Regions from separate parts of the Homo sapiens genome. Here region 2 is linked to region 1. A link means that fine-mapping ties the variant in region 1 to the expression of a gene that starts in the linked region. Tissue or cell type: monocytes. Region 1 holds a variant in brackets; the other region holds the start of a gene. All regions are shown on one strand. Distances are between the middles of the regions.

Evidence for each region. PIP is the estimated chance that this variant, and not a neighbour inherited with it, causes the effect.
Region 2: it holds the start of PIK3R6, and the variant in region 1 is fine-mapped to the expression of PIK3R6 in monocytes (TOPMed, PIP 0.94).

What each region holds. Positions count from the first base shown.
Region 1 is chr17:8,833,393-8,841,580 of GRCh38, forward strand. PIK3R6 (phosphoinositide-3-kinase regulatory subunit 6) reads right to left here. Exons shown (of 20, transcript NM_001010855.4): 3 at 6,222-6,305; 4 at 5,172-5,263; 5 at 4,411-4,479; 6 at 3,399-3,531; 7 at 3,155-3,224; 8 at 1,881-2,064. Among named protein-coding and RNA genes, the nearest start is that of PIK3R6, 30 kb to the right of the region's middle. RefSeq lists an enhancer at 3,434-4,240. The variant T/G (reference allele first, on the strand shown) is at 4,668.
Region 2 is chr17:8,863,924-8,872,077 of GRCh38, forward strand. It overlaps PIK3R6 (phosphoinositide-3-kinase regulatory subunit 6), which reads right to left and starts at 3,751. Exons shown (of 20, transcript NM_001010855.4): 1 at 3,606-3,751. It overlaps LOC107985071 (a long non-coding RNA gene), which reads left to right and starts at 3,851. Exons shown (of 2, transcript XR_001752787.2): 1 at 3,851-4,082; 2 at 4,609-5,110. RefSeq lists enhancers at 977-1,046, 1,097-1,236, 1,347-1,696, 3,520-3,699, 3,730-3,879.

The DNA of each region.
Region 1 (8,188 bases):
AATTCACAGGGAATTTTGTCTGTTTCATTCATAGCTGCATCTCCAGCACTTAGAATAGCTCACTGCACCAGGTGTTGTTCTAGGGGCTGGGATACAGCAGCAAACAAAAGAGATTGTGTGATCTGGGAAGCCCCCCCTGAGAAAGTGACTTTTTTTTTTTTTTTTTTGAGACGGAGTCTTGCTCTGTCACCCAGGCTGGAGTGCAGTGGTGTGACTTTGGCTCATTGCAACCTCTGCCTCCTGGGTTCAAGCGATTCTCCTGCCTCAGCCTCCCGAGTATCTGGGACTACAGGTGCGCACCACCACATCCAGCCAATTTTTGTATTTTTAGTAGAGACGGGGTTTCACCATGTTGGCCAGGACGGTCTCGATCTCCTGACCTCATGATCTGCCTGCCTTGGCCTCCCAAAGTGTTGGGATTACAGGCGTGAACCACCGCGCTTGGCCGAAAGTGACTTTTAGGTAAAGACTTGAAGTGAAAGAGTGAGCCATGCAGCCCAGCGCGGTGGCTCACGCTTGTAATCTCAGCACTTTGGAAGGCCGGGGTAGGTGGATCACGAGGTCAGGAGATGGAGACCACGGTGAAACCCCGTCTCTACTAAAAATAGAAAAAATTAGCTGGGTGTGGTGGCCGGCGCCTGTAGTCCCAGCTACTCAGAGAGGCTGAGGCAGGAGAATGGCGTGAACCCAGGAGGCGGAGCTTGCAGTGAGCCGAGATCACGCCACTGCACTCCAGCCTGGGCAACAGAGCAAGACTTCGTCTCAAAAAAAAAAAAAAAAAAAAAAGAGTGAGTCGTGCAGGTATCTAAGAGAACGTTCCAAGCATAGGGAGTAGCCAGCGCAAAGGCCCTGGGGTGCAAGTATGTTAGGCATGTGCATGTTGGGAGACAAATGAGGAGGCTTGTTTAGCTGGAGCAGAGGAAATGAGAGGGAAAGTTAGGAGACAGGCCAGAGAGGAAATGAAGAGAGATGGGAACAGGTCAAGGCCCTCAAGATGAGGTTCTTGTATTTTTATTTTTAGAGATGGGGTGTCTCTCTGTTACCCAGGCTAGAGTGCAGTGGTACAGTCACAGCTCACTGCAGCCTTGAACTTGGCTCAAGTGATCCTCTTGTCTTCCGAGTAGCTGGGACTGCAAACACATGTCACTGCGTCTGGTATTTTTTTTTTTTTATTACTTTTTGTAGAAATGGGGTCTTGCTATGTTGCCCAGGCTGGTCTCAAACCCCTGGCCTTAAGCAATCCTCCTGCCTCGGCCTCTCAAGTACCTGCAATTATAGGCATGAACCACCACACCAGGCTCTTATAGGTCATTGCAATCACTTTGGCTTTGACTCCGAGTGAGATGATGTAGTAGCTACTGTTGTGGTGACCCAGATTCCTGCTTTCGGGGCTGAGACACTCATTCACCCTGCTGCTAGGAATACTGGCATTATCTTATATCTTATTATTGGTTTTTTTTTTGGAAATGGAGTCTCTCTCTGTCACCCAGGCTGGAGTGCAGTGGCACAATCTTGGCTCACTGCAACCTCCACTTTCCGGGTTCAAGCTATTCTCCTGCCTCAGCCTCCAGAGTAGCTAGGATTACAGGTGCCCGCCACCACGGCCAGTTAGTTTTTGTATCTTTAGTAGAGACTGGATTTCGCCATGTTGGCCAGGCTGGTCTTGAACTCCTGACCTCAGGTGATACACCCGCCTCAGCCTCCCAAAGTGCTGGGGTTATAGGTGTGAGCCACTGCGCCCAGCCAAAATGTATTAATTTTTGATTTGGGGGAAAAGGTGATGCGAAACAGGAGAAGGAGGAAGAGCAGGGTGAATGACTGGTATGGGCATGCAGGGACGAGGGCTGGGACTGACAAGGGGCTGCAGGCAGGGCCATTACCTGCAGCTTCCTGTGCAGAGCGCCTGCGTGACAGGCCTCCCCCAGAGCCGCCTGCAGGGCGTGGGAGACCACGTGGCGCATGCAGGTCTCTGGTGTCTGCTGCGCCTGGGCCGCCTCGATCTCCAGTAGCAGAGCACTGCACACAGACGCAGACACCAGCTCAGGATCCACGAAGAGGAACACTCTGAGGGCAGAAGCAGAGGGGAGAGGTGGGATTGATAGTAACTAATGGGAGAGGGGCCACCGGATGGGCACCCTCAGAGCTGTGCAGCACCTCCAAGTAATTTAATTCTGCTAAAAAGAGGAGTCTCAGATTCAAAAGTCTCTGGGTGGGATGACAATAGGGAGTGGTGAGGACTGTGGCAAATAAGAGCATGCACAGCCCTTCTAGAGGGGCAGCTCTAATCCACTGTCCACAGAGGAAAGCAGGCCTAGTCCCATGTTTAGGAAAGTTCCAGCCTCAATCCTGCTCCCTCTCTCAGCATCCTGGCCCAGGGACCAGGTCACCCTCTAGGAGGGACCCTAAATCCTTCCTGCCAGAACTGGAGTTCTGAACTCTGAGTGAATCTCACCTTCTTTCATCACTCTTATCACACCAGAGAGCCAACCTCCCCTACTCCCTCCTCCTCACCCACTGTGTCTCCCCACCTCTCCCATGGGTGCCCTGGGCCTCCTTGCATCTTTCATGAACTCAGCACCTCACACCCCAAACTCAAGCTGTGCCTTTCAGGGCCAAGTTAGTGGAGGTGCCTGCAGAAGAGGGAGGTGCCGCTCCCAACTTCATCACCCCTCTCCCCAACACGAGCAGGGGACACTTCCTCAGTCTTATCTAAGAGGCTTGGCGTCCCCCATGGAAGCCCTCTGGCTTCATTGTGCACTTGCGCCTGAGCCCCTCCGCTATGGCTATTCTGGAGTCTCCTCTGGCTGCCTGGCTGGTATGATGCTGCATTATGGCCAAGGGCAGGATGGAGGTGGAATGACAGAGCCCCAGAGTGGCCCCGAGGCCATGTCCACCTTCTGCATGTGAGCAGGGTAGCTTCCAATCCAACCTGAGAAGAAAGACCTATCCTGTGTTCAGTGGTCTCCAGAAAACAATATGGCGCCAACCTTGAATGGCAAACGCACCCCACTGCTGGACAAATATCATGGCTGGGGAGGTCTGCTAGGGCTCTTCTTAATCCAGCCTCCTCTTTTGTCCTCCTGCCAGGGAGCAGTCACTAAAGCCACAACAGTTTTAGGAGGCTGAAGGTAGCAATTTTTCTGGGGCCACTCACCTCTCCTGGTAGGGATACAGCTCATTCGTCAAGTTCTGTTCGGCAATGACCATCCTTTGGTACAGTGTCCCTGCAAACCAGACCACTTTGGCCAAACAGCCCCCAAGTCTCTGACTCCCATTCTCCACCTTCCTACAGAAGGTGTGGAGGCTTTTGAGCTCCCCGGTATCCTGGAGAAAAAGGAAAGACCCTGGGCAATGTTGGAGGTGCAGCGTGGGAGACAAAGATGCCCAGTGACTCTTACCTGGGACAGCCATCTCCGTTTTCAGCCTTATCGCGCAGTCCAAGGCGACTGTGCAGTAGGGGGTGGGCAGGGTCAGTAACCTTGTGCAAAAGGCATAGATTCTCTGGTAGAGCTCTTCTGTGATTCCTGTGGCCTGGGTGAGAGGGAGGAGGGGGAGGTGAGAGGGAGGAGGTGGAGGTAAGAGGGAGGAGGGGGAGGTGAAGGGTCCCGGGGGAGTTTCCGGGGAGGGGCTTGGGAGAAGAGGTGGAAGGTCAGGCCTAACAGCCAGACCTGGGCTCACAGCTCTCTCCCAAACCCACACCTTCCAGCCTCTTCTCCCAGCACCTGTAAGACATCCATTTGTCGCCCCGCCCCAACTTACCAAGATAAAAATTCATTGCATCAAGTTATGCAAGCAAATCAACTTCCTCCCAGCCCTCCTGCTCCATCAGGGAAGCACATTCCTGCGGTTCTCCAGGCTCAAAACCATGGAGGCACTTCCTCAGTCTCCTTTGCTCCTCCTTGCATCCCACAGGCCTGAAATGCTCCACAGTGCCCGGGAGGCCCCCCTCTCCCTCCCGACCTCAGTGTGCCCTCCGTCTCTGCCGGAGCTAAGCCCCATCTTGACCCTGGACTCTCCAGCAACCCCAGACTTGGTCTTCCTGCCTGCCTTAACCACCACTCCCACCCGCTGCAACAACACGCAGCTCCCGATTACTCCTCCTGAGACATTAACCACATGAGTATCATGTCTCTTCTCTGTGTAGGGATCAGTGATGTCTCCTGTTGCACTGCACACAGGAGCAAACCCAAAGACCTCATCCTGCCTTTCAAGGCCATTGTCTCTCCAGAGTTCTCTCTCCATATGGGAGGGAAAGGGGGTGGCTAGTGCTCAGAAGCCAGTTTAGGGCAGGCAATCCAAGGGATTTTCTAGGCTCATCCTGGCGGAGACTGAGTGCCCACTAAGGGGAGAGTGTCCAGCCCAGCCACATGCAGGTCACCACTACCACCTCGACCTCAGTCCCCAGCTCACCTTGGTGAGCACGTACATTACAGTGTGCAGCAAGGGAATGATGACATGCCGGAGGTCCTGGCTTTCCGCCTGGAAAACAGGAGATCACGTGACAGGTATTGGGCTGGGGGAATCCCCACTTCATAGCGGGAGGCAGTCTAGGCTGGGAGTGGGCAGGAGATGGGGTGGAAGGCAGCCAGGGGGAGAGCAAAGGGCCATTGTCTGCTCTGGATAGAGGAGTGGGGAGGGGAGGGCACACAGGTGAGGAAGCCCCTCAG[T/G]GAGGGTGTGGGAGCGTGGGGGGGCCTCAGAGAACTCTGCAGGTGAGGGGCCAAATTTAATTAGGGTAGGAGTCGCAGCAAAGCAACAAACAAGTCCTCAGCTCGGAGCCTCCCTTGAGTGCAGTGTTTCCCAAACGGTTGCAAAGTACAACATTGGGTAGTGTGAAGGAGAATTTAGGTGGCCCGAGGATAATTTTGAGAAACGTCAATAGTCGTATATTTATGTTTATAGGTACCTTCTGTTTCTGACAAGTGATGCGGGTTTTCCATTTGTGGTCGCGTTATAGTGCTTCTTTTTGAAAGATGTTTATTCAAGTAAAACAATGAGAGTCGACGTAAAGAAAATACTGCTTACGTAAAAGTACAGGAGGGAGATGCATATGGTAAAAATCATGCAGGCAACCAAAGCTTATGAGATATAGCGCTGCCAGGACTGAGCCCCTGCCCAATTGGCCCCTCTCTTCCTTTCATCCCCGTCTTCCTCCCTGAGGTCCAGGAACTCACCTTCTCCAGTTCTCTGAGAAGAATGCGGACCAGCACTGGGCTCTTACCGGGATCTCGCTCGACCTTCTTGTGCAGGGACCACCTCCACATGCCTGGGCCAGGAGAAAGGGGAGCCCGGCATGAGCAGGTGGGCAGTTCTTAGAGGAGACCCCTCTGAGCAGGACCCTGAGCCCTGGAGCCTCAGCTGCAGCTCTGACCAGCCACGGGTGTGACCCCGCCACCAGCGCTTGGCTCCAGGTGCACCTGGGTGGGCTCCTCCCAAGTGGGGAGTTCTAGTCTGTAGCCCTTTGTGGACAGTGAATTCCCAGGGCAGAAAGGAGGGCAGGTGGGACACACCAGTGGGGACAGGTGTGTGACAGGTGTATGCGTGTGGACCACAGAGCAGCAGTGCTTGCAGGTGTGTGCTCCGAGCCACATTCTGGAAGTCCTGCAGGCCTGGAGTGCTGAGGGGAATTAGGTTTGGAAGTGGAGCTAGGGAAGGTGGTTAACAAAGAGGGTGGCAGGCCGGGTGCCGTGGCTCATGCCTGCAATCCCAGCACTTTGGGAGGCTGAGACAGGCGGGTCACTTGCGGTCAGGAGTTCGAGACCAACCTGGCCAACATGGTGAAACTGCATCTCTACGAAAAATACAAAAATTAGCAGGGCATGGTGGCACACGCCTGTAATCTCAGCTACTTGGGAGGCTGAGGCAGGAGGATCGCTTGAACCAGGGAGGCAGAGGTTGTGGTGAGCCGAGTTTGCACCACTGCACTGCAGCCTGGGTGACAGAGTAGGACTCCATCTCAAAAACAAAAGAAAAAAAAAAGGAAAGAAAAAGGGTGGCAGATCCCCAATGTGCTCTGTGGCAGTTGCTGGGAGGGTTGAACTAGGGAGCAGAGAAGCCTTCTCAGTCCTTCAGGCTCTAGGTATTTCCAGCAGGAAAGGGGTTTGGTGAGACGACCCTTGCCCCCTGAGCTCCAGGCCGGGGCTCTTTCCTGTATGCGCGTGTATTGTTGGCTGGGGTTGGGTGGAGGTCAGAGGGACCAGCTGCTGCTGCCAGCTGGCTCTTACCTTGGTTGCTCTGCAGGGCAGGGGCCTGGGTGCTGAGCTCCCGGAGCACAGCCTGCACGCTCCTCTGGAGGTCCAGCTCCACATCTGGGCAGTGGTAGGGGTGGGAGGAAACTCAGTCCACTGAACCTCACCCTCGTCCCACCTCCATTCCTTCCGAGAGTGTCTTTAGCCATTTCTCTGAGCCTCAGGAGGTGCCCGAAGTAATCGACTTAGAGCTGGCAGCCAGCATGCCAGCCAGGGCTGGAATATAGCCTTCCCTTCCACGTTTCTGTGTTCTTTGTAAAACCTGCATTTCCCAAAGTGCAGTATGTGTACCACTGGTGGTATGTAGGACAATTTTAGGTGGTACACAAACGACCTTAAAATCTGAATAGTTATGCATTTATTTTAATGCATGTTAGAAAATACATGTATGTATTTTCATATATATGTGAAATGTATATATCCTCCAAACATATATATGAAATATATATATCCTCCAAATATGTATATGAAATATATAGCCTCCAAATATATATGAAATATATATAGCCTCCAAATATATATATGAAATATAGCCTCCAAATATATATATGAAATATATATAGCCTCCAAATATATATATGAAATATATACAGCCTACAAATATATATATGAAATATATACAGCCTACAAATATGTATATGAAATATATACAGCCTACAAATATGTATATGAAATATATATAGCCTCCAAATATGTATATGAAATATATATAGCCTCCAAATATGTATATGAAATATATATAGCCTCCAAATATGTATATGAAATATATATAGCCTCCAAATATGTATATGAAATATATATAGCCTCCAAATATATATATATGAAATATATATAGCCTCCAAATATATATATGAAATATATATAGCCTCCAAATATATATGAAATATATATATGGCCTCCAAATATGTATATCAAGTATATATACAGTCTCCAAATACGTATATGAAGTATATATCCTCCAAATATGTATATGAAATGTATATCCTCCAAATATATATGAAATATATATATCCTCCAAATATATATGAAATATATATATATAAAATATATATATAAAAAACTATTAGGTTTGTGCAAAAGTAATTGCAGTTTTTGCCATTATTATTATTATTTTTGTGTGTGTGTGTGTGTGTGAGACGGAGTCTAACTCTGTCATCCAGGCTGGAGTGCAGTGGCGCAATCTTGGCTCACTGCAATCTCCGCCTCCTGGGTTCACGCCATTCTCCTGCCTCAGCCTCCCGAGTAGCTGGGACTACAGGCGCCTGCCACCACGCCTGGCTAATTTTTTGTATTTTTAGCAGAGACGGGATTTCACCGTGTTAGCTAGGATGGTCTCAATCTCCTGACCTCGTGATCTGCCCGCCTCGGCCTTCCAAAGTGCTGGGATGACAGGCATGAGCCACCACGCCAAGCCTTTGCCATTATTTTTAGTAGTTCCTGAATCCATGCATGAAGCTAAAACTTATTTATTTTATTTATTTATTTTTTTGAAGCCTACAGCACCCTGTCTTTTCTGGTAGTCTCCACCCCCCGCCCCAAGTATAAAGCTAAAATCTAAAGTCAATTTAAAGAATCGTATCAGATACATACCAGGACAGGTGGTAACAAAGACTCTCTCCTTGACCAAACCTTACTCAGCCTCCTCTTAGCCCTCTTCTTCACTAGGGCTCAGCCCTGGCTCCTGTCCTGCCTTTGGCCTGCCCATCCCAGTTTTAGCAAGAATCCTGCCAAATCAGTTTAGGTTGGAGTCCTCCACTCTTGATATCTCCTGAACCCCTTCATCCCTTACCGTCGATGTATAAGAATTTGACTTGTGCCTCTAGCAAAAATCCTGTTAGCTCAGTTTAGCAAGAATGTCCCGACCCTTGATGTCTCCTCTTAGGAATTTTCCATCCGCTGACCCCTTCACTCTGCTCATTGGCTATAAATCCCCAACTGGCTTT
Region 2 (8,154 bases), 31 kb after region 1:
CTGCAGGAAGAACGCTCTAAGCAAAGAGAATAGCCAAGTCCTGAGTTGCAAGGGTGCCCAGTGTTTTTAAGGGACAGCGTTTGGGGTGCAATGAGTGGGGGACACTAGGAAGATGTTGGGAGACAATTCTCCATAGGTTTCTGTTTGTGCATGCCTGGTGAGCATTCTTCTGCACCATCTTTTCAAATACGTTTGTATAGCAAACAGCCTTGGAAGATACTGTCCATTCTAGGACAGAAGACTAATTTGCTGTCAATATAATAGAGATAATGTCTCCTTTCAGGGTAAAAGTTGGGCAGGTTTGTTTGCAGCTCGTCATGAAAATTTGGGGTTTCCTAGGCTCAGGGTTCCTGGGCTATGATGCAACAGAGTCCATTTGGATTGGGCTCCTTGCGGCGCCCCTAGGACTTAGGGGAAAGGGGGACCTATAATCACAATGTTCATGCTCCTAGTTGTGCTGTGAGTAATAGAGTTCTTTGTCTCTGACTCTGGAGTCTCATGTCTTCTGCTGGTGACCATGAAGCTGTGGTGGGCTAACTTGTTAGTTCTAAGTTAACTTATAACTAACAGATCCTTCTAACTTATAACCCAGGTCCTTCACAGCTCTTTTTTTTTTTTTTTTTTTTTTTTTTTTAGACAGAGTCTCACTCTGTCGCCAGACTGGAGTGCAGTGGCGCAATCTCGTCTCACTGCAACCTCTGCCTACTGGGTTCAGGTGATTCTCCAGCCTCAGCCTCCCGAGTACCTGGGACCACAGGCGCCCGCCACCACGCCCAGCTAATTTGTTGTATTTTTAGTAGAGACGGGGTTTCACCGTGTTGGCCAGGATGGTCTCGATCTCTTGACCTCGTGATCCACCCACCTCGGCCTCCCAAAGTGCTGGGATTACAGGCGTGAGCCACCGCACCCAGCCCCTTCACAGTTCCTGGCAGAGGGATGAGATCAGAGACAAAGAATGAAGGGATGAATGAATTGGGATTCAGAGAGCATTCTTCCTTAAACACAGAACATCAGCACTGAACAAGTCGCAGGCCAGGTGCACACACACAGCTCATCACTCCCTTGGGGTACAACAAGCCCAAGGACTGACCACAGAACCATAGAAGCCTTCTATGGACACGGCAAAAAGAAGCAAATGGGGACCACCTGTTCACAGCTGCTGCTCCCTGTTGTTGGTGTGAGATAAAGTGGGGGTGACCTCCTGGATAGAGGAGAAGACTGAAGTAAGAGGGCTTGGAGGAAGATCTGAGGAAGCCTGGCTCAGGTTCAGAGTTTCTGAACCTGAAGATTCTGAACATGAAGATTCCAGATCTGACTGTCCCTTGTGCCCCCATCCCCCCAGCTCACCATTGCTGGCTTCTCGGACAAGCTGTTCAGACAGAAGAACCCACCACCTAGGCCTCCCTATACCTGCAGGAATAAAGCCTGGGCAGAAAAGATGTGGAGCTTCCAGGCCTCCCTATACCACAGCTGCAGGAATAAAGCCCTGGCAGAAAAGACGGGGAGCTTCCCAGGGCCACACTCTGTCTGCCTCCTGTCCTCCAGCCACTCCTGTGGCACAGAGAGAGGGGACCTGCAGAGCCTGGGTCACCTGCCTCTGTTGCCTCCCCTCTTCTCCCACCAGAGCTGCCTCGTGCCCTCAGGGTTTCAGGGGCAGCTCAGGCTTGCCAGACGTCATAGCTGTGTTTTTTTTTTTTTTGGATCGGAGCGTGTGGTGAGTGAGCTGGCAGTGAGGGACTAAGGGAGTGAGAGGACAGAGCTCTGGGTCCTGAGGGGGCCCCCTCAACCTTTAGCCCTTGCCCCCATGAGGTCTACTTCTCAGATTCCCAAGGAGCCGGGAGGTGAGGGTCCTGCTGCCCTGGCTGGCCCCCGTGGACAAGGACAGGCCTGTTTCCTCAGCTGTGTCTGCTTCTGGCTGGAAGGAAACACCTGGATATGAAAGAGCCAGTGGGGTGGGGGTGGGGGAGCATTGTTCCCAGGGGCAGGGAAGCTTGGTGGGATCTGAATTCAGGTGGGGCCTGAATGCAGCAGGGACCAGATGGCGATGACTGCAGCTTGGCATCTGCAGCCACCGTGTCAGCCGAGGCGCTTTCGTGGAGACAGTGTAGGGCCTGCAGCAGGTTCTAGTGTGAGGCAGCGGGGCATGGTGGCCAGGCAGGTGGCATTCCAATCCTGTTAATAGGGCAACTTGGGCTGCTTGCTTAAAACCTCCGTGCCTCAGTTTCCCTATCTTAAAGGGGACCTGACAACAACACCTACCTCATAGGCTTGTCATGAGACTAAATGAGATGATATTTGAAAACCACATAGAGCTAAATAAATAAATGGACCGGGCCAGGCGCTGTGGCTCATGCCTGTAATCCCAGCACTATGGGAGGCCGAGGTGGGTGGATCACGAGGTCAGGAGATCAAGACCATCCTGGCTAACACGGTGAAAACACAAAAAATTACTACTAAAAATACAAAAAATTAGCCAGGCGTGGTGGTGTGTGCCTGTAGTCCCAGCTACTTGGGAGGCTGAGGCAGGAGAATCGCTTGAACCCAGGAGACGGAGGTTGCAGTGAGCCGAGATCGCACCACTACACTCCAGCCTGCGCAAAAGCGTGAGACTGTCTCAACAACAACAAAAAAGGACCGGCCTGCGAGTGCTCCACACACCCCCTCTAGCTGTGCTCCCCCCAACACCTGACTTTCCCACTTGCTTTCCTGCCTCTGGGGGTTTGCACACTTTGCTCCCCATTGCTGAGGTGCCTCTTGCCTCCTCTTTGCACACCAGGTCCTCCCTTGAGCCTCAGCCAGGCACCACCTTCCACGGGACCCTCCCTGAGCCCGCACCCTGCAGTCTCTTTCATCCTGCACACACCACACACCTCCTGGCTCGCTGAGGACCCTGAAGGTTCTGAGTTGGTCACTCGCAGCTGTGTTCAGACCCTCTTTGCAAGCAGTCAGCCCTTCAAGGACAGAGACCAGGCCTCGGTCAGACTCTGGCACACATAGAAGATACTGGATTTGTGTATAGGAAGAGAATCAGCCAGACCAGCATGACTTTCACCAAATTCCCCAGGAAAGTGATGGGCAGATGATGTCCCAGAAAGGGCACAGACTGGGACCCAGATGTTTCACACTGAGTCCTGCTCCTTGCTAACCCACTCTGCAATCTTTGGCAAGTTGCTTCATCTCCCTAAGCCTCAGTCTTCTGTTCTATAAAATGGCACTAAAACACTTATCCAGTCAACCTCTAAATGCTGGTGAGAATCAAATGGGAAAATGGGTGTACTCTGCAGCACCGGGCATCAATCATTAGTCCTATTATTAACAGCATGTACAGGATTCCAGAAGAAAGGAGAGTCCTTCTCACAGGGTCCCGTGTCTTTTCATCTTGTGAAAATGGGCTGAAACAATCTTAACTTGGCAGAATTACCCTGCAGTGTCTGAGGTCACCCTTCTCAGAAAGACGGCCCTGGCAGCCCTGAGCCTGGATAAATAAGAGCCAGGGGTGTTTCAGCCCCCCCAGGGGCTCCCCTTCCAGGTCCCTCCGTTCCACCCCTCTATCTGTTCTGCTCAGATCTGCCTGCCTGGCGATCTCCATCCAAGCCAGCACTTACCTTGGTTCGGTGGCAGCTTCTGGGCTCCCCAAGTCCTTCAGCCAACTCCCCACGGTCCTGAGCGAGGTCCCCAGTCCCAGAGAAGCAGATGTCTTGGGGGAGCCTCCACGGGTGTCTGTGGTCTTGACTGTGCTCTTCAGATCTGCAAAGAAAAGCTCGATGTCTCACAGCTCTGTCCCCTCCTCTTCCTTCCCCTTCCTTGTGGCCCTCGAAGCTCCTCCCAGAATGCATTTTGCTGTGAGGATCCTTTCTAAAGAAGCATGACCCACGGTCACTGGAGGTCCTTTATTCTGATCGAATGTGACCAATTTTATGGGGCAGGAGGGGGACACCTCCCAAGAGACTCCCTCTGGTGTTGACGGGGGAGGGACTGATGCAGGGAGCCCTGACCTCTCTCTCAAGCTCCAGACTCACCAACCATCCCCCACCCCTGGACATGGCCAGCCAGATGTCCCTCAAGCACCTCCATCTCAACAGGTACAAACCGAGCTCATCATTTCTCCCTCTAAGCCCACTTCTCTGTTTCCTGCCTCAGAATCAGCAACCTCGGTATCATCCTAACGCCTCCCTCTTCCTCGCCTGTTACATCTAAACTGCACCAAGCCCTGTCAATAGGTCATGGATCCTCCACTTTCTTCCATCCCTATGGCTGTCACTGTTTCACCTGACTACCATGGTCTTTCTCCTGAAACACTACAATAGCCTGAGGTCCTTCACCCCACAGCCAAAGGTCTCTTTCTAAGAGTGAAACACAAATCTATTCATGTTACACTCCTGCTACAACCTTCAATGGCTCCTTATTACTTTAAAGAGAATGGCCAAACTCCTCAGTGTGACTTGCCAGACCCTTCTTGATCTGGTCCCTCCCTAAACTCCAACCTCATGCTTTATCCCCTCACTCCAGCCCCTCCCAGAAGTACTGCAGTCTCTTAACTATCCAGGCTGTGGGAATCACTTCCCAACCCTTCTCCTGGCTCATCCCTTGTCATTCATTATTTATCAGAGAAGAACAAAAAAACAAGCCTAAGAGGCAGGAGGAAAGTGGAGTGCCAGGGATGCTGGCAGAAGACAGAATGCCAAGGAGGAGACAATGGTCAACGACGCCAATGATTGTGGAGAGGACACAGGTGAAGAGAATGAAGAAGCATCTGCTGTCCTTGGCAATTAGGAGAGAGCAGTGCTGGGCAGGAACAGTAGACCTGCTGGGGGAAGTTGATCAACCGCATGGTGACACATTTGCTACTTTGTCATTTTCTTTTTTTCACATTTTGAAGTCAAACACTATTTGGGAGAGTCTCTGACACATTTCTAGAGCTTTGAAAAACTCACAGATTCTATGCTGTCATCCCGTTGGGCCTAATGGGTAAATGGCTCTAGAGAGTGACAGATTGCTGACAGCAGGGTTTGAGTGCTGGATCCAGCTATGCCTGAAATTCTGGGGCTGAATCTACTCTTGGACTGTTCATTGTACATGATCCAATAAATTCCATTCTTTTTTGGATTAAGCCTGTTGGAGTTTGTCACTTGGCTCAACTCAGAGAGCTTTGGGGCTGTGAAGTCACTGATCCTTTCCCGTAGGGGCTTGACTAGGTTCTATGCTGACCTTTCATTTTGCAGAGGAAGCTATTTGGAAAAAAAGTCCAGAAATGTAAATCATTTACTCTATTGCTGTGCCTTCCTCCCATAACTGCTTCTTTTCTGTCCCCTTCATGTGACTGAAGTCACATTCTATCTTGCATCTTTGTATTAGCGTTCTCAGCTCACATGTCTGCCTTGTTCCTCCCTCAATGAGTCCTGAAAGAGCAGGGGCTAGAGTGTTGTTCATTATTCCGTCCATCACAGGGTGAAAGAGTGTTAAGAGAATGCTTGGCTTATTTATGAAGCAAATGGGTGACTGAACGAAGGAAACGAATACGCCCAGGACAGAATAAAGGACCAAGAACTCAGCCCCTGCAGGTTCCAGACTCAGCAGCAGCTGGGCAGTGTGGCCACCCTGGGCAGCGCCTCTCCTTATCAGCCTTGGCTTAACTGAATCGGAAATCACAAGCCGAGGTCACTTCTTGTGGGTGCACTGCTCTCTTTATCATCAGCTGCCATTTCTGCAACTGCATTTGCTGTGGTACCCATAGAGGGGGCAGCTTGGTGACCATAGAGAGCCCCAGAGCTGTCCCTTGCAAAGAGGAGCTAGGGTGCTTTCATTTTTGAGTGCACACGGCTGACCGCCAGCCAGGAACAAAGGACAGTGGGAGGAGGAGGTGACAATAGGAAGGACCAAGTTCCCCCACGGACCCCAGTGCACCGTCCCTACCATCACCAAGGCAAGGCAGCACTACCCCTTTTGCCAATCCCAGCCATGTCTTTCCTCTCCAGACCATGTTCTTAGGATTTGTTTAATCTGGGTTTTCCAGGCTGTGCTCTTACCAGGTTTCTCATCTGCACCAGTCTCCAAAGAGCAGCCCCCTCTTTCCCTGCCAAAAGGCAAATGATCCGTCAGCATCAGAACTGTAAAAATTAAGGTTCCCTGCTTTCACTGTACTAGTTCCCAGATGACCTGGTCAGCTAATGGAGGCAAAGACCCCCCAGAATGATCAATGCCCAAGATACAGAAGCAGAAGGCCCACCATCTATTGTCACTCCCCTTCCTCCTCCTCCTTCTGCCACCCTCCTCTGCCAAGTGAGGGTCCCCACTCCTGGTGACCCTTCTGGGCATAGCTGCAATGGCCTCTCTTCAGGTTCTCCTATCTCAGCCAGGGTGTTTGGAAGTCTGTTTACATAACTCGCCTTGGGGTTACAAAGTTACTTACCTTCTCTACAGATGAACCACTGTTTCCAATCCATCCTCATCCATTTTCTAATCCATTACAAAGCCACTGAGAGCTTTAAACAAAAATTAAATCTTCTTGCAACTGTGGACAGAGCCACGGGTGAGGAGGGCCAGGTACCAGCATTGCGGAGGTCTGCAGGACCACAGTATTGGAGTCAGGCAAGAATTACATGCTTAGGAAAAGAGGTCCCCAGGGTCGCTTGTGTCCTCACCTGCAGTGCCACCCACCGTGGGAGCTGCTCTGGGATTATTCAGCATCGAAGGCGGCAGAATTTGTCATTTCAGTTTTCTAAGGAATCCACTTACATAAAATACTAATAAGCAAAGTCAATTTTACTAAAGATTATGTAGGAGGATGAAGGGAGTGTACATCACACGTCTCTTGGCAAACTATTCAAAAATCCTCTGTGGATAGTTCTGAGGATCCCGACGTCCCTCCTCCATGCCATGCCATTGGAGCGGGCAGCCTGGAATGGGGTGGGCTTTTGTGCTTTTTCCTGTCTCTCTTCTCCCCATGTGACCCTGACTCATTAGCGTCGGTTCCTCCCTCCTAGATTTTTTTCACAGACATATCCAAATTGTCTTCGAAGCCCATTCAGAGCACTGTAATTCCATTCTAATTCTCAACTCCCCACTTTTCTACCCCAAATTCATGACTGCCACCCACACAGATAGCTCTCTGGTTGGCAGGACCCATTTTTAGAAAACCGTGAGAGGTAATAAACCAGAAAAGAGCTGTTAGGAAAACACATTTTGATTCGTTTAAACAATCACCTCGTGAGTCAGCTACAGTTACACAGATAGGTTAAGTTTAAACGCTCTCATCCCTGGTGGAGGTGAGACTCGACACACTGCCTCGGCACAGGCAGTACCCAACTGCGGGGCACCTTTGCCTCTGGTGCAGTCCCTCCAGCTCTTGCCCACGGCCCAGAGGCAGGCAGGACAGCGTCATGCTCTAAGCCACTGGTTCGCTAAGGGTAGTCCCTGGACTGGCAGCATCAGCATTGCCCTGGAAATCCGTTATCAACTAGTACTGTCTGCTGTGGCTGTGGAAAGGGAGGAACAGTGCACACCTCGGGAATTTTCCATCCTTTACTTCCAGCAGCGTTATTTGGCAGAGTGCATGCAGAATCAGGACTAATTGGGGTGATAGAAGAAGCGGATTTATGCTTCATATCCAACCAGTCACCTTCTCAGCTATTTTTCTTATTTTTGGTGGTGGTGGGGAAGTTTTTATTTTAAATGCCATCAATGTTCTTTTTTTGTTAAGCTGTAATGTTTAAAAAACTAGTCAAGTAGGCCAGGCACGATGGCTCATGCCTGTAATCCCAGCACTCTGGGAGGCCGAGGCAGGTGGATCACCTGAGGTCAGGAGTTCGAGACCAGCCTGGCCAATGTGGTGAAACCTCGTCTCTACTAAAAATACAAAAATTAGCCTGGCATGGTGGCCGGTGCCTGTAATCCCACCTACTTGGGAGGCTGAGGCAGGAGAATCACTCAAACCTGGGAGGCAGAGGTTGCAGTGAGCCAAGATTGTGCCATTGCACTCCAGCCTGGGTGACACAGCAAGACTTCGTCACAAACAAACAACAACAAGAAGAACAAAAACTACTTAGGTAATCCATAAATATATTTCCATTATAAAAACACTCAAGCATTGTAGGACCCTAAGAGGAAAAAAGGAGGGTCTCTCTCCTCCCCCTCCTCAATTTCTTTACCCTCCCA